2 separate regions of the Homo sapiens genome follow, and region 2 is linked to region 1. A link means that fine-mapping ties the variant in region 1 to the expression of a gene that starts in the linked region. Tissue or cell type: monocytes after LPS. Region 1 holds a variant in brackets; the other region holds the start of a gene. All regions are shown on one strand. Distances are between the middles of the regions.

What was found. PIP is the estimated chance that this variant, and not a neighbour inherited with it, causes the effect.
Region 2: RNF122 starts here. The variant in region 1 is fine-mapped to the expression of RNF122 in monocytes after LPS (Quach 2016, PIP 0.95).

The regions. Positions count from the first base shown.
Region 1 is chr8:33,539,114-33,547,217 of GRCh38, reverse strand. It overlaps the pseudogene LOC124900261 and the pseudogene RPL10P18. Among named protein-coding and RNA genes, the nearest start is that of RNF122, 24 kb to the left of the region's middle. RefSeq lists a silencer at 1,308-1,377. The variant C/G (reference allele first, on the strand shown) is at 4,750.
Region 2 is chr8:33,562,726-33,570,829 of GRCh38, reverse strand. It overlaps RNF122 (ring finger protein 122), which reads left to right and starts at 3,702. Exons shown (of 6, transcript NM_024787.3): 1 at 3,702-4,131. The coding sequence starts at 4,107. RefSeq lists silencers at 3,818-3,937, 3,988-4,057, 4,088-4,137, 4,278-4,327.

The sequences.
Region 1 (8,104 bases):
CGTCTGATTTCTAGCATATTTTTAAAGGAAGTTGGTATTTTCAATCACAGCATTCCGTCGACTAAGACTTGAAACTAAGAATTCTACTTGTAATTTAAGCAATTGTCAGTGCCCTTAACACAACTAGTCACAACTAAAAAGGTCTACCTTTTAGTTATACCATAGAGGTTGCTACCATAGAGGCTCTGATCTCTCTTTTTTTGTTTGTTTTGTGGTGACAGAGTCTCTGGAGAGCAGTGGTGCAATTCTGGCTCACTGCAACCTCCACCTCCTGGCTTCAAGTGATTCTCCTGCCTTAGCCTCATGAATAGCTGGGACTACAGGCATGTGATACCACACCCAGCTAATTATTTGTGTATAGTAGAGACAGGGTTTTACCATGTTGGCCAGGCTGGTCTTGAACTTCTGGCATCAAGTGATCCATCTGCCTTGGCCTCCCAAAGTGCTGGGATTACAGGCGTGAGCCACCGTGCCCACCCCCTTTTTTTTTTTTTTTTTTTTTTAATTTTTGAGGCAAGATTTCACTCTGTCACCCAGTGTCACTGGAGTGCAGTGGCACAATCATGGTTCACTGTGGCCTCAAACTCCTGGGCTCAAGCAATCCTCCCACCTCAACCTCCAAGCAGCTAGGACCACAGGCACACACCACCATGCCCAGCTGGGTTTTGTATTTTTTGTAAAGATGGGGTCTCACTATGTTGCCCAGGCTGGCCTCAAATGCCTGGGCTCAAGTGATCTGCCCACCTCAGCCTCCCAAAGTGTTAGGATTACAGGGGTGAGCCACTGAGCCCAGGCCTCTTATTTTTTCTTAGCTAGTAGCTGCAATTGCTGACAATTGCTGCCACCTCTAGCAATGTTGCATGGTGATGCTTTATGGTCCTATGTGCACTCAGACCTTGCATCCATGCCCTCCAGCTTTGTTCTGTCCATGTCCCAAGGAAGCACTGAGTCAGCAGGGGGCATGCAAAGTGCATTAAGAGTGTTGGGAATGGCCTGTAATACCAGCACTTGGGGAGGCCGAGGCAGGCAGATCACTTGAGATCAGGAGTTTGAGACCAGCCTAGCCAACATGGCAAAACCATGTCTCTACTAAAAATAGGAAAATTAGCTGGGCATGGTGGCGCACCCCTGTAACCCCAGCTACTTTGGAGGCTGAGGCACAAGAATCACTTGAACCTGAGAGGCGGAGGTTGCACTGAGCCAAGATTGCACCACTGCACTCCAGCCTCAGCCACAGTGAGACTCTCTCTCAAAAAAAAAGTAAAAATGTTGGGAATGATTTTCGTGACCATAATAAGCATGGAGCAGCTGGGCCTATACTGCCCCTATGTGTTGAACAAGAGCGTTTGCTGAATAAGTATACTGTTCTGGTGTCATAGGTAAGCAGGAGATGCCCATACACCCAGAGGTTCCAGGCCCCACAGGTAGGTGCGATGCCTTCTCACCCCTGTTGTTGCACCATGGAGGCTGTCAGCACAGTGTGTGCTCATGCTGGGCAGTCCCGAGGTGCAGCTGGGGCACCTGGCAGTCCTGGTGCAGTTGTTGATACCTGTCTTGATGGAGTTCTTTGCCCAAGGGTACACCTGTTCTTACCACCTATTTTTCCCTCACTGAGAGGTAACCCCTGCTCTTCCTTGAAGCCACCAGCTCCAGCTTGCTGCTGCCAACCCTATGGAGCCTGATCCTTTCTTTGTTGGGGGTACCGCATCATCTCCCAGCAACCCTCAGCTTGCTTTAATGTGGGAAATAAAATGTGTTTCCTAAGCAAAACACAGAGCCTTCCCTCCAGCTCCTGCTGCAGCCTCATGGTAGATGCATTGCTGGGATCAGATGGGGAAAGTATGATCAGTAGGTTGGCTTCAACTTTCCTGCCTCAACCGTCTCCCCTTCCTCTTAAGGAAAATTTATTGGTGTTGAATTCATCAGATTAGCATAATTCTGATTGAATTTTATTCTTTTTTTTTTGAGACAGTCTTACTATGTCACGCAGGGTGGAGTGTGGTGTTGCGATCTTGGCTCACTGCAACCCCCACCTCCCAGGTTCAAGTGATCCTCCTGCCTCAGCCTCCTGAGTAGCTAGGACTCCATGCCCGGCTAATTTTTGCATTTTTAGTAGACACGGGGTTTCACCATTTTGGCCAGGCAGGTCTCTAACTCCTGAACCTCAGGTGATCTGCCCACCTCAGCCTCCCAAAGTGCTGGGATTACAGTCATAAGCCACCATGCCCAGCCAATTTTGATTAAAATATTAGCACTAAATTGTCTGTGTTCACAAATTTGAAAATCAATGTCCTGAAGTCAAGAGGACAGGGGAAAAACTTCCTTGTATTATTTCTAGTGCTTCCATACAGTTAGGTAGAATGCCATGATGGAGCACCGAGAAGGGAAAACTGGATATTGTTTAGCTGATCAGATATGACTTGGCAGCAGCTGAAAACAAGTTAAATAATCATGAATCAACTTGTAGTCATTAGCGTTGTCTTGTGACTCAGTTCAGTGTTTCTAAAGAACCTACTACCTGGGCCAGGTGCTGAGATAGGATAACTCCTGCCTCATAAAACAGTGTAAGCAGTGTATTTTAGGTGAGCAGGCTGGTATGGCAGAGAGACCCTTAGCACCACTGCTCTGAAAACTGCGAGGGTACCTGCCGGGATATGACATCTGAGTCTCGAGAGCAGTGTGGGCAAACTCACACAGGATAACAGCCTGTTGGGTACCAGAGAATGCAAACTGTAGAGAATAAAGTTGAGGTGGGCGAAGGCTGGAGAAGAGAAGTCTTGGGTGGGGCCAGACACTTGGGACTTGATAGAGTGAGAATTCTGAAGTTTCTTTAGGTTGGGCTTTTTAAAAATTTGGGCACCACTGGGCCAGGAGCAGTGGCTCAGGCCTGTAGTCCCAGCACTTTAGGAGGCCGAGGTGAGAGGATCATGAGGTCAGGGGTTCGAGACCAGCCTAGCCAACACGGCAAAACCCTGTCTCTACTTAAAATACAAAAAATTAGTTAGGCGTGGTGGCGGGTGCCTGTAATCCCAGTTACTCAGGAGGGTGAGGCAGGAGAATCGCTTGAATCTGGGAGGCGGAGGTTGCAGTGATTCAAATTCGCACCACTGCACTCTAGCCTGGGAGACAGAGTGAGGCTCTGTCTCAAAAAGAAAAAAAAATTGGGGCACCATTTGGGAGCTAAGCACATAATTTTCCTCTCTGTTCATGTGATGGCCATGGGCAGCTACAGTGTACTTAGCTCTATTCTCATTACTGAAGGATAATTTGTACCCTGAATGTGTTTCAATGGGTGAAAAACTGGGCCAAGCGCGGTGGCTCACGCCTGTAATTCTAGCACTTTGGGAGGCCGAGGCAGTTAGATCACTTGAGGTCAGAAGTTTGAGACCAGCCTGCCAACATGGTGAAACCCTATCTCTACTAAAAATAAAAAATTAGCCAGACATGGTGGCGGGTGCATGTAATCCCAGCTACTGGGGAGGCTGACGCAGGAGAATCGCTTGAACCCGGGAAGCCGAGGTTCCAGTGAGCCAAGATTGCACCACTGCATGCAGTCTCAAAGTAAATAAATAAATAAATAAAAATAAAAAGGTAAAAACTGAAGAAAGCTGGGTGATAATCATAGGTACCAGAATTCCAACTTCAATGATCTTATCTGTGGCAAACAAACACCAATCAGTCAAAGATAATAAGCATTTACCCACCAAGTTGTTTCACAAAATGCATTTCCTGCTTCCCCCTGCCCCGCCCCCACTGCCATATATATCCCTCTGAGTTTCGGATTAGGAAAGAATGTTGAGAAAAGCAACAGCTTACTTGTGACTACACAGATAATAAGCATCAGAGTCAAGGCACAAACCCAGGTTGTATGGATCTAAGTTTGCTGCCACATGTAGCTTCAGAAGCAGATTGCTCTCTGCAAAGATAAGAAAGCGGCAGGTGCTATTAATGCCTGGACTGATGCAATCCGGGAAGACAAAAACCCCAGAAAATTGTCAAGTGATTTGTGTGCTTGTCATTATCTAGGGCCATGGGGTGTGAGTTTTCTTTTTGTGCTATTTGTAAGTGTTTTGGGGGTACATGTGATATATGTTGCATGTACGGAATGTGTAATGATCAAGCCAGGGTATTTAGGGTATCCATCACCTCGAGTATTTACCACTTCAATGTATGGAAACATTTCAAGTCCTCTCTTCTAGCTGTTTTGAAATATACAATATATTGTTGCTAACTTGAATCATCCTACTCTCCTGTGGAATATTAGGACTTATTCCTTCTAACTACATGTTTCTCTCCATTAATCAACCCCTCTTTACACTCCCCCCACATACCCTTCCCAGCCTCTGGTATCTATCATTCTACTCTCTACTTCCATGAGATTTTTTTTTTTTTGAGATGGTGTCTCACTTCGTCGCCCAGGGTGGAGTGCAGTGGCGCGATCTCGGCTCACTGCAAGCTCCGCTTCCTGGGTTCACGCCATTCTCCTGCCTCAGCCTCCCAAGTAGCTGAGACTATAGTTGCCCGCCACCACGCCCGGCTAGTTTTTTGTATTTTTAGCACAGATAGGGTTTCACCGTGTTAGCCAGGATGGTCTCGATCTCCTGACCTCATGATCCACCCGTCTTGGCCTCCCAAAGTGCTGGGATTACAGGTGTGAGCCACCGCACCCGGCCGTTTGTTGTTTTTTTAACTCCACAGTGGATTACTTCTTTTAAAGAAATCTGTGTTTGTTTGTTTGTTTGTTTGTTT[C/G]TTTATTTTTTTTTTTTTTGAGATGGAGTTTCGTTCTTGTTGCCCAGCTGGAGTGCAATGGCGCCGTCTCCGCTCACTGCATCCCCCGCCTCCTGGGTTCAAGCGATTCTCCTGCCCTAGCCTCCCAAGTAGCTGGGATTACAGGCACCCATAGCCACACTGAGCTAATAAGGAATCTATGTTGAAGAAGCATTTATGAAATGAGTAATTGGAGCGTGGATGAGAATATGAAAACTCCTGACTGATAGACTGAAACAATGGGTCTCTTCAAGGACTGTGCCCTCCCATTCCTCCTTATTCCCTCCCATCAGTTTTTTGTTTTTGTTTTTATTTAAAGACAGGGCCTGGCTGTGTCACCCAGGCTGGAGTGCAGTGGCATGATCTCGGCTCACTGCAACCTCTGCCTCTCAGGTTCAAGCAGTTCTCCTGCCTCAGCCTCCCAAGTAGCTGAAATTACAGGCACTCACTACCATGCCCAGCTAATTTTTGTATTTTCAGTAGAGATGGGGTTTCACCATGTTGGCCAGGCTGGTCTCCACCTCCTGACCTCAAGTGATCCACCTGCTTCGGCCTCCCAAAGTGCTGGGATTACAGGCGTGAGCCACTGTGCCCGGCCCCTCCCATCAGTTCTTACTTCTGCCACCCATCCCTCAACAGGGCTTTTCCCATTCTCACCTGGGGTTCTTATGTTTCCCCAGTTTTGCATATTTTCCCCACTAAGGTAGGACGCAACCTCTGCCTTCCATTCTACCACCCTCTTCTATCTTTGTGGGTGTCAGAGTAATATCCTGCATGCTCTTGACTCACTCAGAGGGAGTCTTCTGTTGAAGCCATATGCACAGGTTCAGAGGGACAGATGTGATCAAATTAGAGACAAGGACAGACTGACCAGTAATGCAGGCATGTGTGGCCAGTGCCATTCACAGAAAAAAAATCAAGCTGTTTACGACACCCCAGTCAGCACTGGATTCCTACCTATCTTATTTTTAAAATCATGCCCATTTAATTCCTTTTCTAATAAACTAGTCAGCCAGGGAAGCAAGGAGGACCTGACCAATGTCACTTTTGTACATGGGCACGACTTCCTATTCTGTTCCCATGTGAAAGTCTCAGTAAGAAACCAGGGCAGGCTGGGCACAGTGGCTCACACCTGTAATCCCAGCACTTTGGGAGGCCGAGGCAGGTGGATCACAAGGTCAGGAGTTCAAGACCAGCCTGGCCAACATGGTGAAACCCCGTCTGTACTAAAAATACAAAAATTAGCTGGGCGTGGTGGTGGGTGTCTGTAATCCCAGCTACTTGGGAGGCTGAGGCAAGAGAATCGTTTGAACCTGGGAGGCAGAGGTTGCAGTGAGCCAAGATCGCGCCACTGCACTCCAGCCTGGGAGACAGGGTGAGACTCCATCTCAAAAGAAAAGAAAGAAAAAGAAAAGAAACCAGGGCATGTGCTCTGTAGAGGAGGGAGAGCGCCAGGAGGACTAGAAGATGTTTTTGATGACTACTGAGCACACTTTCCCATCTTCGGCACCTCTCTGGTGCTAAACATCAGCACTTCTTTCTTTCTTTTTCTTTTTTCTTTTTTTTTTACCTGGACAGGAAGTAGCATTTATTGGTGGGTATTAAGATGGGGCAGAGGCCGGGTGCAGTGGCTCACACCTGTAATCCCAGCACTTTGGGAGGCCGACACGGGCGGATCACGAGGTCAGGAGTTGAAGACCAGCCTGGCCAACATAGTGAAACCCCATCTCTACTAAAAATACAAAAAATTAGCTGGGTGTGGTGGCAGGCGCCTGTAATCCCAGCTGCTTGGGAGGCTGAGGCAGGAGAATTGCTTGAACCCGGGAGGCGGGGGTTGCAGTGAACCGAGACTGCGCCATTGCATTCCAGCCTGGACAACACAGCAAGGCTCTGTCTCAAAAAAAAAAAAAAAAAAAAAGGTAGGGGGTGGGGAGCAGCACAGTGGAAGCCCTCACCAGTGCCGGACCTGCCACTTGTCCAGAGGGCCATGACTGGGGATGTACTTGACCCTGCAGCTATCTGGGATGAGCTGCTTCTCAGCCACTATGTCTTCTCATTCATCCACATTGAACTTGGTAAAGCCCCACTTCTTGGAGATGTGGATCTTCTGGTGGCCAGGGAACTTGAACTTGGCCCTGCATGGCGCCTCAATCACATGCTCCTTGTTCTGCAGCTTGGTGCAGATGGACTTAACTTGGCCAATGTGAACCCTGGCCACAGTGCCCTGGGGCTTTCCAAAGGCACCTTGAATGCCTGTTTCGAGCCTACATCGGGGGTAGTGCAAGGTCAGAGACATGAACGTACATTTGAAAGGCCTGTCTCCAAGGACCCTTAGAGCAACCCATACAAGAAACAGGCCATGTACACCACCAAGAAAGCTGCTGTTTGCAGCCATTGCACACTGGGATCAGAACTTCTTTCTTATCAATCTCGTCTCCTCTCCCATTCATTTTTTCTCCCTCTTCCTTTCTTTCCTCTTTTTTTCACCTTTCATCGCAGTCTAGTCTCTATCATGGCTGAGAATGCCAAGCCATTGCAAAACCCCTCCTGATGGGCTACGATAGTCATGAATAGTTCAAAGGATACACAGATTACTAAGAGTACACCCAAATGGTTTAACCCAAATGTGGGTTTAAGCCCCCACAGCAACCAGCTCTGAGTTTCTGAATGTTTACTTATATATGTCTATTATTTCTCAAGATGATGCTGATATCCTCAAAGACAGGAATAGAATCCATGGCGACTTTGATGCAATGTGAAGGCGGCCATCAAATACCAACCTAAATGAAGAAAAAACTAGATTTTCTTAAGTGTAGGAGAAATTGATTTGAAAGCATAGTGGATGTCAAGTTGGTCATAAGGCAGAAAAAAGTCAAAATGAATCCAAAATGCAATAGCACAATTATAACATGCCGAGAAGTCCTTTCTGCCTTCAATACTGACCAAATTTCTATTGGATTCCTTTACTCTCATTTTACATCTGCAGAAAAATAGGGAGGCTGTAAAAAGTGCCATGAGGGGCCAGGTACAGTGGTTTACACCTACAATCCCAGCACTTTGGGAGGCTGAGACAGGAGGATCGCTTGAGCCCAGGAGTTTGAGACCAGTCTGGGCACTATAGTGAGACCCCAGCATATATATATATATATATATGCTGCCATGAGGAAGAAATTGAAAGAGTATTTTTAAATCTGGAGGGACAAAGACCAAGAGACAAGCAAGTTGGTGGTCATCAGTATTATGTTGTAAGCATGAATCTCCATTGCAAACTCAGATATTCTAGAAATTACAGTTTTCCTCCCATTAAATTGATGCTGAGCTACCATCCTTCTGAGAT
Region 2 (8,104 bases), 24 kb before region 1:
CCTTAAAATGAGGGGGCTCACGGAGTGTCTAAGAGGAAGCTGGAGTCAGGCAGTGGGAATAAAAAGAATCCCTTGACTCCTCAGAAGCTTTCCTAGGCCAGGCACGGTGGCTCCTGCCTGTAATCCCAGCACTTTGGGAGGCCAAGGCTGAGGGATTGCCTGAGTTCAAGAGTTTGAGACCAGCCTGGGCAACATGGCGAAACCCCAGAAAATTAGCCAGGCATGGTAGTATGCGCCTGTAGTCCCAGCTGGTCGGGAGGCTGAGGTGGGAGGATCGCTTGAGCCTGGGAGGTGGAAGTTGCAGTGAGCCGAGATGTCACCACTGCACCACTGGGTGACAGAGCAAGACCCTGTATAAAAAAATTAATTAATTTTAAAAAAAAGTTTTTCCGGAAGTTTAGTATTATTTTTTCCCTTTCCATGGAAGATTTTAAAACATATTTCTTTCTTTTCTTTTCTTTTGTCTTGCTCTGTTGCTCAGGCTAGTGTCTAGTGGCACAATCATAGCTCACTGCAGCCTTGAACACCTCAGCCTCTGGAGTAGCTGGGACTACAGGCATGTGCCGCCATGCCCAGCTGATGTTTATTTTTTGTAGAGATGGGGTCTTGCTATGTTGTCCAGGCTGGTCTCCAACTCCTGGCTCAAGCTCCTTCACCTCAACCTCTCAAAGTGCTGAGGTGTGAGCTACCACACCCATCCTAGAAACATATTTCTACCTCATATTTATCAAGTAGCTTTGAATATATGGCCCATCATCTTCTTTACTGTTTCAGTTTCTTCCTCAATAAACCAAACTAGTCTTCCTGACTCATGTGGAGCTGAGTCACCTGGTGGTGAGGGTGGAGGAGTGAGAGATCTAAATTTGGTTGACATGGTGTGAGAAATCAGCTTATCTTTCATAGAACCCTTCAGTCCAGGAAAATGCTGGGACTGAACCAATCATTTCAAAGATGCCCAGAACCAAAGCCCTTCTACCAACATATAACTCCCAATGTCAGCCATCAGTTGAGGTCCTGTGGCCACACTGGCCAGGAGGGACGAAGGGAGGAGAGTGTGAAGGGATACAGCAGTTTTTCGAAATTGGAGTCCTTAAGTGCCTCTGGAGATCTTATTGAATGCTTAAAATATCAGGCTTAAAATATAAATTGTTGCACCTGTAATCCTAGCTGCTCAGGAGGCTGAGGCAGGAGAATCACTTGAACCTGGGAGGCGAAGGCTGCAGTGAGCTGAGATCAAGCCACTGCACTCCAGCCTGGGCGACACAGAGCAAGACTCCGTTTCAAAAAAAGAAGAATTTCCATCATTCCTACCTTTAAGGGTGTTTTCCTTCCAAGAACCTCTAGTCCAAAGGCGAGTGGGACGGGAGGTGTTCCTCACTTCCCATCAATTTTCCCTTCAAAGGCTCTCCTTCTTTCACAGTCTGGCGCTGGAGGCAGTTAGCAGGAGAGCCTTAATAAAATTAGGATTACCCATCACATCTCTCCCCCGAGCCAATGAATAGAAAGAACAATAGTTACCATTATGCACACTTTTTTTTTTAAAGACTTTATTTTTCAGCGTAGTTTTAGGTTCACAGCAAAATTGAGAAGAAGGTACAGAGTTCTGATACACCCCCAGCCCCACACATGTATAGCCTCCCCCATTAATCCTAGCACTTGGGAGGCTGAAGCAGGCAGATAGCCTGAGCTCATGAGTTTGTGACCAGCCTGGGCAACGTGGCTAAACCCAGTCTCTACAAAAAAAAAAAAAAAAAAAAAATTAGCCGGGCATAGTGGTGAGTGCCTGTAGTGCCAGCTACTCAGGAGGCTGAGGTGGGAGGATGGCTTGAACCCAGGAGGTGGAGGTTGTAGTGAGCCAAGATCATGCAACTGCATTCAAACCTGGGCAACAGAACCAGACCTTGTCTCTAAATAAATAAAAACAACAACAAAAAAGAATATACACAGCCTATGTTCAAGGAAGAGTAACAACAAAAAGCTTCATGGCTGATGAATAGTGTGTGGTGAAGGGGAGTATTTGAGTATGAGGAAGACTGAAACAAATAAGGCTAGACTGAAACACTTTATTTTAATAGTTTTTTCTTTTTTCTTTTTGAAACAGAGTAGTCTCATTCTGTCGCCCAGGCTGGAGTGCAGTGGCACAATCACAGCTCACTGCAGCTGCATCCTCGACTTCTCGAACTCCAGTGATTCTCCCACCTCAGCCACCAGAGTAGCTGGGACCGCAGGTGCGCACCACCAGGCCCAGCTAATTTTTGTATTTTTTTTACAGGTGGCTTCACCATGTTGCCCAGGATGGTCTCAAACTCTTGAGCTCAAGCAATCTGCCCGCCTCAGCCTCCCGAAGTTTTGAGATTATAGGAGTGAGTCTAGACTGAAACATTTTGAATGCCACACTCTAGTTTACAGAACTTTATTCAGTAAACACTGGAGACCAACAAACGTTATCAAGCAAAGAAATGTTCAGATTTACATTTTACAGAGATAATTGTGACCAGAAGGGATGGACTTGAGAGTGAAATCAGAGCACTGTTTCTTTCAATAGCCGCATGAGAATTTGAGGGGTGGGGAAGACAAGGCACATTAAAATGAAAATTTCTGGGTCCACCCTTTATTGAATCAGAATCTCTGGGTTCAAGGCCTGGGAATCTGCATGTTACATCTCAAACATAGGAGTGATTCTTGTAGGCTCTGAAGTCTGAGCTATAGACTAGAATCAGAATGGCCAGTTAGGAAGCTTTTGCAATTATCCAATTAAGAAATGAAATGTCCTGGGTGCCATGGCTCATGCCTGTAATCCCAGCAATCTGGGAGGCTCAGGCGGGAGGATCACTTGAGTCCAGGAGTTCGAGACCAGCCTGAGCAACATAGTGAGGCCACTCATCTATACAAAACAATTAAAAAGTAGCTGGGCTTGGTGGCAGGCACCTGTGGTCCCAGTTTCTTGGGAGGCTAAGGTGGCAGGACTGCTTGGGCCCAGAAGTTGGAGGCTGCAGTAAGCTATTATTGCACCGCTGCACTCCAGCTGAGTGACAGAGCAAGACTCTAACTCAAAAAAGAAAAAGAGGGCCGGGAGCGGTGGCTCACGCCTATAATCCCAGCACTTTGGAAGGCTGAAGCAGGAGGATCACTTGAGGCCAGGAGTTCGAGAACAGCCTGTCCAACATGGCGAAACCCCGTCGCTATTAAAAATACAAAAATTATCTGGGCATGGTGGTAAGCGCCTGTAATCCCAGCTACTCAGGAGGCTGAGGCAGGAGAATCACCTGAACCCGAGAGGCAGAGGTTGCAGTGAGCTGAGATCGCGCCGCTGCACTCCAGCCTTGGCGATAGAGGCAGACTCTGCCTCCAAATACATAAGTAAATAAATAACAGATCTGTAGGCGGAAAACAATGTGGCAGTAATTGTTCCTTTGCCTTGGTGTCCCTGGGCAAAAGGCAGGCCCCCACTCCGGGGCATCGCTCGTCGCCGCTCCATTCTCTGCAGACCGAAGTTTCCCCAGGCCTGGGAAGACTAAGTGGGAGGCGCCCACCGTGCGAAGATCCTCCCGGCTTCCAGGGAAGGGAGGCTGGGCCTGCAAATAATAGCCGGGGGCAGGAGAAAGGCTCCGATTGGTCGGAGGGAGGGTGACGAACAAGGGGCGGAGTTTTCCTGGGGACTGGTGGGGGAAGTAAAAGGGAGGGGGTGTGCACCGCCGGGTGTCAGTTTCGGAACCCCAGCCAGCTCACCTCTGCGCCGCTGAACCCGATCCGAGCCTCCGGCAAAGGTTTTTCCCTCCTCCCCCGGCCGAGGGCTTCTGCAGCCCGGGCACCCCCGCCCCGCGGCGCCCCACATTCCCCCAGCCCGGGGCCCTTGGCGCGTGCGCTCCGTGCGGCTGTGCTCCGCGGGACTTTGTTTGTTTCCTCCTCGTCCCTCTTTGTTGGGCTGAACACCAGCCTCGTCAAAGCCCCCCACTCCGGAGGGAGTTCGGCTTCTCCAGCAGGGCGGCTGCAGCGCGCTGCCCCGACCCCGCCTGCGGCCCCTCACGCCGCTAGTGCTCCCACCCCGCCCTCCTGGCACCCCGCCTGCGTCCGTTCGCCCGAGGAAGCCAACCGCGACTTCATTGATGCACCCATTCCAGTGGTGTAACGGTGAGTCCCCGGGGCGAGGGCCGAGCCTACGTGGGGCTGGTGGGAGCCGCGGCGCGGGGTGCGAGGTCGGACAGCAGCGCGCTGGTCCTCCCTCGGGAACCAAGTTTCTCCTGAAATGGGACAGTCGAGAAGGCGTCTTGGCGCCCCACTCTGCTCTGCACAGCGCGGAATTTGAAACTATCCAGGTTTCACTCCAGAGCCTGGAAGGGGCCTCCGGACTGGCGGCGGGCCGGGGGCGTGGGAGCCGAGGGGTTCCCGGCCTTTGTGTGGCGGCCCGGCTCTTCTACCCCCTTCCCCTGCCTTTGTGCGCTCAAACTCTGTTCTTTGTTGTGGTTGTTGGAGGAGAATTAAATCCGCACTCGGGCTGGGATCTCCTAGAGGGAGCTCAAGTTCCCGGCCTGAAACTTTGCAGGCTATTGTAAATATGTATACCGTGCAGCGTGCGGGACTGGGCGCGGGGGTAGCTTCCTCTGGCTTTGTTGGTTTCCCACGGGCTGCTGGCGTGGCTTGGGTGCTTGCGGAAGACTGGATTAAAGAGTCGCTTTCGGCCAGGCGCGGTGGCTCACGCCTGTAATCCCAGCACTTTGGGAGGCCGAGGCGGGCGGATCACCTGAAGTCGGGAGTTCGAGACCAGCCTAACCAACATGGAGAAACTCCGTCTCTACTAAAAATACAAAATTAGCCGGGAGTGGTGGCGCATGCCTGTAAGCCCAGCTACTTGGGAGGCTGAGGCAGGAGAATCGCTTGAACCCAGGAGGCGGAGATTGCAGTGAGCCTAGATCGTGCCATTACACTCCAGCCTGGGCAACAAGAGCGAAACTCCATCTAAAAAAAAGCCGTTTTCCTGAGTTGATAAACCCTCGCAGAGAGCTCCGCGCCCGGCTGTCCCTGGGGTGCGAGGCTGGCCTGGCGGGAGCCGTGTTTCTGGCCACAAGGCCAGATTAGGGTGTCTGCTCCTGAGCCCAAGTGAAGGCCACACCTCCAGACGCGACAACCCCTCGCCCCATTTCTCCCCAGGCCTGGGTGATGCTTCTAAGTTAGTTCATTTCACCTGAGGCTTTTTGGAGGTTCAGGTGATACTGGGTTAGGCTGGAGTCTGATTCCTCAGCGAGCTACCTGAAAGGTAGGTGTTTCTGAGCGGGACACTTCAAAACCTTGGATACTAATCGCCCCCCACCCCACCCGCTCCAGTCCTCCTGGGGTCCTAGTCTTGACCGCGTTGTTCCGATGCTTGGAGAGTTTCTGGGAGAGAGAGATGGGAAGCAGCTGGCCTTATCTCTCAGTATGGCAAGCGAGCTAGTTACAGGGGGAAAAAAATCATTCTTTAGAGTAGACTCCTGCCAGATCTTGGATTAATTATGTCAAGAGGCTTTGTTTTGAGGCAGGGTTTGGGTAGCATGTATACCCCACATCCCCCCACCCCGCCTTCCTCCTTTTGCTGGTCGGATCTCATTTCCTGAAAATGAACCAAGCCGTGTGTGATAGGCGGTTTTGTGGGAGAGGGGGCAGAGGATGGGGGTTGAGGAAGGCCCTTGCACCCTAGCATCTGGGAAAGATTCCCGTTGGCTGGGAAAGAGAAGCAGTTCCCAGATCCCCTGGTCTTTCTTGGCCAGCCCTTGTCTGACGTCATTCCTGCTCCCAGCCTGCCAGATGAGATGAGACATTCTGATGTCAGTGCTTTCATAGGTTGGCCGAGACAATGGAACAGAGACTTAGGGAGAAATGAGGCAGCTGTCAGTAACACTGCCCTTTCTGGGCAGCGCCCTTTCATATCAGATTTTAGACTTGCTGCTTTATTTTTTTTATTTTTTATTTTTTATTTTTTTGAGACTGAGTTTCGCTCTTGTTGTCCAGGCTGGAGTGCAATGGTGTGATCTCGGCTCACCACAACCTCCGCCTCCCGGGTTCAAGCGGTTCTCCTGCCTCAGCTTCCCGAGTACCTGGGATTACAGGCATGTGCCACCATGGCCGGCTAATTTTGTATTTTTAGTAGAGAGGGGGTTTCTCCATGTTGTTCAGACTGGTCTTGAACTTTTGACCTCAGGTGATCTGCCCACCTCAGCCTCCCAAAGTGCTGGGATTACAGGCGTGAGCCACTGCGCCCAGCCTACTTTAATTTTTTTTTTGAGAGAGGGTCTCACTCCGACAACCATGCTGGAGTGCAGTGGCACGATCAGGGCTCACTGCGGCCTCCAACTCCCAGGCTGAAGGGATCCTCCTGCCTCAGCCTCCCAGCATAGCTGGAACCACAGGTGTGTGCAACCATACCTGGCTACTGGCTAATTTTTAATTAATTAATTAATTAATCTACTTTTTGGGGATAGGGTTTCACTACATTGCCTATGCTGGTCTTGAACTCCTGGGCTCAAGCAGTCCTCCCACCACGGACTCTCAAAATGCTGGAATTACCTGCAGGAGCCACCTTGTCTGGCCCTCTTTGCACTTCTTAGAAAAGTGACTGAGAGATCCTGTCCTTTGACTCCTGTGAAGAAGCAACCCTTCCCTCACCCCTTCAGAAACTACCTGGAGCCCCTCTTTCCTGGGGCTGGTATTCTCTGTCCTTATACAGTTTTAAAGAAAAACTTACTACAGTGTCAGCTTTTGACCAGTAGACTATTTTGCCATTTCTTTAATAGTAACACAAGCAAATGAACCATCTCCTCTTGACTATGCTCTTCCCACCGACCTCTTTATCACGTGAAATACCAAGCTCACTGATTCAATCAGTGGGAGATAAAGGGGAAGCCTTTATCAGGCAGGATAAGTTGGTGGGGATAAACTGATCAGAGGACTTGCGGGGACCATCGTGCTTGTGGAGTGCACAGATATCCTCTGTAATAGCTCTGACCAGGTTCTGCAAGTTCCCAGAACTGGAAACCAAAGGAGGTTTCAGCTCATAAAAGGTGCCTGGAAGAACTAAGGAAACGGGGGGTTAGACCCTCTTGTAACATCAAATAGTGCGGGGGAAGGAGGTGAGAAAACAGCTGGGAGCACCAGGTCTTGTTGGAAGGGAAGTCCTGAGCCCCTTTTCCAGCATAGACTGAAGTTTGTCACTCTAGCCAGTCTGCCATGATGTCCTCATGGAAAATTGTTCTTCTTTGACCCACAGAAAGTAAATATTTGGGTGGGGACTGGTGGTGAAAAGCACTTTCTCTCTAACCCCTACTAGAGCCTAGACACAAGGAACTTCCTGTTGGGCACAGCAAAGTTTAGTAGCTAATTATTTCTTTCATTTCAACTTAATCAAAAAGTCTTTCACAACAAGAACTTCTACTTTCTGTTTTCCCACAATGTGTAGGTCAGTGCATAAAGCAAGCCCTCAATAATACTTGCTGGTTGACTGGTGATCCATTAGCGGAGGGCAGTTTCTGGGCAATTTTCCCAAACATCAGTCCTGCTGCTTTGAAGTGGGAGGTTTTGCCAAGGGGACCAGGTTATTTTAAGAAAATGGGGAATTATTTATCTGTTAACTAGTTATTGAGAACAAGCCAAACTCTAGGCTAGGCCGGACACTGGAGAATATACAAAAGTCCAAGTTGGAGTCAGCAAACCTAGGAGGGTTCAGGCTTTTTTTTTTTTTTCTTTTTTTCTTGAGTCTCACTCTGTCGCCCAGGCTGGGGCACAGTGGCGCCATCTCAGCTCACTGCAGCCTCTGCCTCAGCTCACTGCAGCCTCTGCCTCCCGGGTTCAACCAATTCTCCTGCTCCAGCCTCCCGAGTAACTGGGACTACAGGTGTGCACCACCATGCCCAGGTTTTTTGTTTTGTTTTGTTTAGAGACGGGAGTCTCTCTCTGTTGCCCAGGCTAGAGTGCAGTGGTGTGATCTCCGCTCACTGCAACCTCCGCTTCCCAGGTCGAAGTAATTCTCCTGCCTCAGCCTCCCGAGTAGCTGGGATTACGGGTGCCAGACACCAAACCCAGCTAATTTTTGTATTTTAGTAGAGATGGTGTTTCACCATGTTAGCCAGGTTGG